2 linked regions of the Homo sapiens genome follow. The protein of the gene in region 2 purifies or fractionates together with the protein of the main gene of each other region. This does not show direct contact. Each region holds a gene or a part of one and is shown on either strand. Other genes may lie near its edges.

What was found.
Region 1: the proteins of VPS8 (region 2) and TTK purify together in Homo sapiens (affinity purification with mass spectrometry; one large-scale study listed by BioGRID and IntAct). This does not show direct contact.

Annotation. Positions count from the first base shown.
Region 1 is NC_000006.12:80,021,624-80,025,448, reverse strand, and holds part of TTK (dual specificity protein kinase TTK), read right to left. Parts: intron 3,126-3,825; coding exon 2,977-3,125; intron 1-2,976.
Region 2 is NC_000003.12:185,046,135-185,049,928, reverse strand, and holds part of VPS8 (vacuolar protein sorting-associated protein 8 homolog), read right to left. Parts: intron 1,451-3,794; coding exon 1,370-1,450; intron 1-1,369. UniProt on the Homo sapiens protein: Plays a role in vesicle-mediated protein trafficking of the endocytic membrane transport pathway.

The sequences.
Region 1 (3,825 bases), on a different chromosome or scaffold from region 2:
TAATTTGGATTATATTGGTTTATCTATTATAATTTCAACACACTGGTCCTCATTACGCACTTGAGAATTACAATGACTAAATCTATCCTACTTTCTACATTTCAGTCTTGGCCAAGAAATTTTTTTTCCAGGATAAATTTTCCCTCTCATTTAAGACTTCGTGTGTCTGTGCTCACGTACAAGCACGCACATATTTTAAGATTAGTGGTAAAGATGTTACTGAGGAACTGCTGTAATAAGATTAATGAACAAGGAAAATGAAAAAGATCACGATCATAGAGTGGAATGTTAGCATCTGCGATTTTGGAGGTCAGAATTGAGGATATAAGGAGTAGGTGGCTAAAGTAAAATTAAGGAAATGGTCATGAGACACGAAGAAGTTAGAAAAATGAAGGCCAGCTGTAGGACTGGTAATACACAGGGGTGTAGAAGCCAACAAAAACAATGACAGTTGTTGGGATCTGGTTGATCCAGAGCCTTGTATCTTCAAGGAATGATGGGGAGTTACCAGGACATTCAGAGATGAGAGTAAGTCAGAAGTATCAAAAGAGCAGGCCTTTTGCAAGAAAGAGGAAGAAATGGTCTGGACACAGAACAGAGAGCACACAGCCATATGGTAAGTGAGATGTGAGACAAAAACAATCCTCCCTTGAAGGGACTGCTGGACAAGCAGTATCCACAAGAAACTGCCTAGATTCTATACTTTTTCTTTCTACGTGTACTATTCAATGGTTTTTAGTTGCTCAGTGGTTCACAGCTGTGCAACCATCACCACAATCCAATTTTAGAATATTTTCGTCTTCTAAAAAGAAAACTCACACCCATTAGCAATCACTCCCCACTCCCCACTGCTCCCAGCCCCTGGCAACCACTAATCTACTTTCCACCTCTATGGATTTGCCTATTCTGACCATTTTATCTAAATGGGATCATAAAATATATGGGCTTTTGTGGTGAGCTTCTTTCACTTAGCACGTTGTAAATGTTCACTTATGTTGTAACATGTACTAGTACTTCATTACTGTTTATTGTTGATTAACATTCCATTGTATGGATGTACCACATTTTCTTTATCCATTCATCGGTTGGATATTTTGTTATTTCCACTTTTTGGCAATTATGAAAATGCTGCTATGAATATTTATGTACAAATATTTGTGTGGATGTATGTTTTCAATTCTCTTAACTACAAACCTAGGAGTGGAATTATTGGATCATATAAAGCTACGTTTAACCTTTTGAAGAACTCCCAGACTCTTATCCAAAATGACTGCACCATTTTACATTCCCACTAGCAGCATATGAAGGTTCTAAAATTCTCCACATCCTTGCCAACACTTGTTATTGTCTCTTGAATTACAGCCGTCCTAGTGGGTGTGAAGTAGTATCTAATTATGGTTTTGCTTTGCATTTCTTTAATGATCCATATGGTTTTCAGTTCCCTTACAATCCTATTAGTGTACAATTTTCAAATAGAAAAAAAAGAGGAGATGCTGGTTTGATACAATCTATGACTCAACCTATCAGGATCCTTATCATCTAGCATTTGTTATCTACATCTACTACTTAAGAGATCTTACTATGACAATATTTACCTTTCTCACTTTTATTTTCTCATGAGTATATAAGGAGTTTTCCAGAGACTGTATGACATGTAATAATGAAATACATTGAATGCAAAAGCAGACATAAGAATCTAGTCTTCTGTTAAGCCAATCATTAGATTTGTAAAAACTCTAACACAGTGCTACTCTTCCCACTGTAGTTATTTTGTTTCAGAAAATACATATTTTTCATAAAAGTACATTTATATTCACATGAGTTTATCAGTTATTTTATTTCATTTTATTTTTTTTGAGACAGAGTCTCGCTCTGTCACCCAGGCCGGAGTGCAGTGGCATGATATCTGCTCACTGCAAGCTCCGCCTCCTGGGTTCACACCATTCTCCTGCCTCAGCCTCCCAAGTAGCTGGGACTACAGGCGCCCACCACCACACCCGGCTAATTTTTTGTATTTTTAGTAGAGACAGGGTTTCACCATGTTAGCCAAGATGGTCTCGATCTCCTGACCTCGTGATCTGCCCGCCTTGGCCTCCCAAAGTGCTGGGATTACAGGCGTGAGCCATCGTGCCCAGCCCTCAGTTATTTTTAATAAATTAATAAACATTTTTAAAGTTTCTTGGCTTTACTTCCTAATATAGTAAATAGAGATAGATATAATCAACATAAACAAAAGCTCTTTAGGGGCACTGATAATTAAGAGTATAAAAGGCCAAATGTTTGAGAACCACTGAATTAATAAAGCCTTTACTATATTTACTACAAGTCACTGAAAAGAAATGGTAAGGAAACTATGGCCATGAACTGCAGCTATAGCTCTTTAGTATCCTACTTGATCATTCCTTCCGAAAAGCCACCAGGAATGATGACTCAGTATGTTACAAATTCATGTACGTTGTCTAGGCTATATTTTTCTATTTTTATCAATGAGTATGACCACAGGAAACTGTTAAGTGCTTGGGACAGCACTGCGCTAGTTCAGAGATCAGCATACAGTTTTCGGTAAAGGACCAGATAGTAAACATTTTAAACTTTGCAGGCCAAGTGGTCTCTAATACAACTAATCAACTCTGCTCTTATAATGCAAAAGCAGCCATAGACATTAAATGAATGAGTGTGTCAGTGTTCCAGTAAGTCTTTATTTACACAATCAGGCTAAGAACTAGATTTGGCCCATAGCACCAGTCTATCGGCAATCTAGAAACACTATCGAAGATAGAAAATAATTTAGCCTGACTTACTGAACGTATGACTGCTACTGATCACCACTTTATAAATGATTTTAAAAACCTTTAAATAAACTATTCTACTAAATATCATACACATTTAATAAAAGAAAACATTTAATATGATCATCAACCTTCGGAAATGCATTATGAACAAAAAAGCAATATTGTACTTTAGTGGAAAAGTTACCTCTGTATTAACTTTTCGGGCTAACTCCGGAATCTGCCAGTGATTTGAAGATGCAGCAGGATTCTGGTTAATACACTCTGACTTTCTCTTAGATTGCCACTGTTTCTGGTTACTCTCTGGAACCTCTGGTTCTTGATACTCTTTAGTTTCTGAAATTGTATTTGTTGTCATTAAAAAGCAAGAATATTTGATCATAATAAACTAAGCCTAAACAACAGAACATATTACAAACTATATGAGTATTTAGTTCTTAAAAACAATCAAGGAGGGAGAGAAACTAAAAGCTTTAAGCCAGCTGCTTAACAATTTGCTTTTAGCAAGTCAATTTCACAAAGTTGCACTATAGTCATCTTCCTACATTGTTACTAAGAACTTTGTCAGAGACCTTGCCACATTTAAATGCTTCTTTACCAATAAATAAGTAAAAATTTAAAAACATATAGATGTTATAAAGTCTTACTAATAGAGAAGCTAATTCATCACTTTTCATAGACCGAGTATCCAACCCTCAAAATGCAATTTAGAACATTTTTTTTTCCTTTTTGCTTTCAGCCTGGAAGCATACTTTGAAACCCTTAGTTTCTCCCTTTCCCACCAGGCATGTCCATGAACAGTGTTCACTTATCTAATTACGTACTTGCTTAGAAATTTCAGGGGCCAGTTTTGAAACAAACCAAGCAGAGATGGAGTTGCAGACTCCTCTTGCATGGGGGGAGTTTCGAACAGTTAGCCTAGCATTACCCAGCTGAAGTCAAGATGACACAAACCATACCTCCAGATGGGCAATTACTCAATATAACTATCACAACAAGACATTCAGACCTGCACCACTCCTGCATCTCTTCCACA
Region 2 (3,794 bases):
TGGACTGCATCCAGGAGACCCCTAGAGAAACTTCCTGGAATAACAACCTCTGCCCACACCAACTCTCAAAGAAGGAGCACCACTCTTTCCTCCGGCTGCCAAGTAACCTAGTAGGTTCTGCCTAAGAAAGGGGAGTGCGTGAAGGGGGCCCAGGTAGAGAAGCAGAGGACACAGCAGTTTGCACAAGCTCGAGACAAGCTCAGGAACAAATGGGACCACCTAGAATTGAGGTGTGATTTGGGGAGTGAAGAAGATGGTAGGGTTTGGACTCATTCTTTAGGTGGTGGAGATCCAGAATGTGTTATAAGCAAGGGAGTAACATGACATACTTGGTTTTAGAAAGGGTAGCCAGGCAGCAGCATGGAGAGGGGACAGAAGGGTTTCTAGCCAATCAGAAGACCTGCAGTGGCCTCCGTGAGTGATAAGGAGGCCCCACCCGGGGTAGTGGTAAAAGAGGGATTAGTAGACAAGATCCCACAGGATGTCCCCAGTCAGGTGGCAGGAAGGTGAGGAGTGAGCCTAGTGCTGCCAGGTCTCTGCTCTAGGTGGTTGGATGACAGAGGTATCATTCCTGAGGCAGGCACCAGGCATGAAGAACAGGTCGAGAAAGCGATGAGTACATGTCCAAAGTGCCTGGGGGACACCCGGTCTGATGTGGTGGCAGTGACTGATAGAAGCCCTCCAGTCTGTACTCTTCTTCCACAGTTAGATTAGACCAAGAATTGTAGCCCAAGGTCTTTTGGAATAAAAATCAATTTTCCCAGTCTCCATTGCAGTGAGGTATGGTCATGGGTCTAAATTCTAGACAGTGGAGGTAAGTGGAAGCAACCATGTTGAACCATACGAGTTTAAGTCATGTGCTAAGGAAGGCAGAGCAACAGGACAGAAGAAAGCTGAAGGGAGGTACGTGGATGTGCCCTGGCTGGCTGCATTTACACTTCTCTCTTGCTTAAACCACTACTACTTTGCATTTGTCTTTCATGGCCAAAACTAATTCAACCAGTGCAGATGCCCAGGAGGGTCTAGGGCTTCGGACAGATTGGGCACCTATCCATATCCTAAGCAAAGCCCTCCTGGGATCAACCTTCTGGCCTGCTCTCTCTGGAGGGAGGTCAAACACAGAGGCCCTTCTGTGTCCTCACAGCTCATGGTACGTAGGGGACAGACAGCTTTCTACTTCCTTTGCTCTCTTTGCCAAGCTCTGAGTGCTCCTTGGGGCCAGGGTCTGTTGTCCATGTAGCCATAACAGGGATGCCAGGGCACCTTCCAGGCTAGAAGGAGGCTAGAGGGAGGTTCCAAGACACTGCCTGTCTAAAGCAGTAAACTATAAATAGGGAAATAAAAATATAAACAACCACGCAAACATTACCCTGGAGCTTCCTCGGTAGAGACGGCAAAGCTGATCAAATGCTTGGATTTGCTGTGGATCCAGAACAGGTTCTGAGGTTCCCTGAAAAATAAAAACCGATACGATTAACAACATCACGTGGCTAGGCAGCCTCTCAACTTGCTCTACACGATGCTGAAGCATAACATGGTGCTTCCTTCATTCTCCTGAAAACAATCCATGCTACCAGCTATTAGTGAGATATATACTGAACATGAGTTAGAAATCGGCACGTCCCCTAAGATCCCTCCTTGGTGTGGCTGCAGGTTGACCTGTCTGTGGACCCTTTTCCCAATGGAGTCTCCAAATGTCCCGTATGTATAGGTTCCTTTCAGGTTTCTTGATCCCTCTTTGGCACCATTATGCAGAGCTAGTTAGTTCCTTCCAGCCTTGCATTCCCATGTCCATCACTTCATACGGCCAGCAAAGATACCGCTTTTCTCTGTCATGGTAACAGGAGACGCACTGTCATTTAAAAATCTCATCCCTGTCTCATTATAAAGCTGGTCGCCACCTATGGGGTTGCAAGATTCGTCTGCTGCTTTTGGGAAAAGGGCCGGTCTAGCCTGCTCTTACAGCAGCCATGTTTTGTTCCACCTGTTATTGTGGTGGGACCTGCCAAACTGCGGTTCTTCTCTCAGTGGACCTGATCCAGCTCATATGCAGAGAGAAGAAATGGGATCCTGGGGGAGGCGGCCATAAGCTTTGGAGTCAGAGGAGAATCTGGATACTAGTTCTGACAGTAACCTGCTATGTAACTTTAGGCAAGTCACCTCACTTCTCTAAGCCTCAATTGCCTCACCTGTGGGAAGGAAGGGGTAATGCTTACCTTTTGAGATTACCAAAAATTAAATGAGATATATATTTAAAGTGTCGCCTGCCTAGTACCAGGCGAGGGCTCAGTATACGCTAGCTTTTCTTACAATTCAGAGATACCCATAGTTAAAAGTTGATTTCAGAAGTGTTTTTGTTTATGTATAAGATTGGTAAAAGGACGTTTTTCTTTGCCCTATATCATGAACCTGTCCCAAGCGTCTGCACTGCACAGGTTGGTGGGTAAGAGCCTGCACTGCAGAGTTCATCAGCCTAAGCCCAAACCCTGGCTTTAGCAATTACTAGCAGCATAATCTTAGGCAAGTTCTCCGAGTTGGGTACTTTTTGCTTGTTTGTTTGTTTTTGCTCACATGGGGATAATGACTATAGCTACATCACATAAAGTGGCTATGAAGATTCAAGAAGGTAATGCACACAGAACACGTAGCAGATGCACGGGACTCTGCAAGTTCTCACTGAGCGCTACTAACTAGAGAGCACAGGAAGGCCCGCAGGTACTGCGCACAGAGCCAGTCTCCAAGAAGCAACATCATGTGGCCCTCGTCCTGATGTGGCTACAGAAACAGAAAGGAAGGGGACATCAGAGCAACGTGCACAGGCAAAACTGGGTAATGAAGGAGGTTGGGGGATGTGCAGGAGAGGGTATGCCGAGTGTGAGAGGGAAAACTTTATGGAAATGAGAGCTGCTAAGGTCAGCTCCCTCTGTCTTGCTCACCAGTGCCCAGTACTGTGCTTGCACAGAGCAGCCACAGAGTCATCATCTGCTGATCAAATGAAGGGATGGGAGGGCCGGCATGCAGATTTCTGATTTCTTACTATTTATCACTGGCGTTGTGACCAACCCTCGCCATGCAGTAAGAACACAGGGCAGGGCTCTGACACACTTGGGCTCAATCTGGACTCTGCCCAAGACTAGGTGAGTGGCTCTGGGCAAGGAATTTAGCTTCTCTCAGTCTCAGTTTCTTTATCTGTAAAACTCTACTTTGCAGAATTGTTATGAAAATTAGACATAATGTATGGGCTTGGCATCTATTTGATGTTCAATCAATGGCAGTAATTACTGCGATTGTGTTGTTTATACTCCCAGAGAGAAGTGTCCCCCTAGAAAGAACAATGGGATGAAATCAGGAAACATGGGCTCCAATCCTGTTACCAGCTCCCTGTATAACCTGAGGAGGTCACATCTCTCCTCTGAGTCTTTGTTCCAATTGATCAAAGGGCAATGCCACCTCAGGCCACACTCCACCATCCAGGGAAGAGGTGGGCACCATGAGATTAACAGGCATTTAGGGCATGAAAGTTTCAAGAAAAACAGTAATGTTTACTGAGCCTAATCATGGCTTTTATCTTTTACTGCATATTCAGAAGCAAATTAGGGGCAATGTCACAAAGATACATGGCAGCCCTGAAGATAAGTAACAGTTTCCGTCTACAGATGCCAAATTAAGGTCAGACAAAAAATAAAGGGGAAGCAACCAAATATGAACATAATCTCTGTTCACTCCAAAAACATAAAAGTATTCTCAGACCACTAAACCTCCCCAAGGATAAAACTGGTTAGGAGTGATTTTCC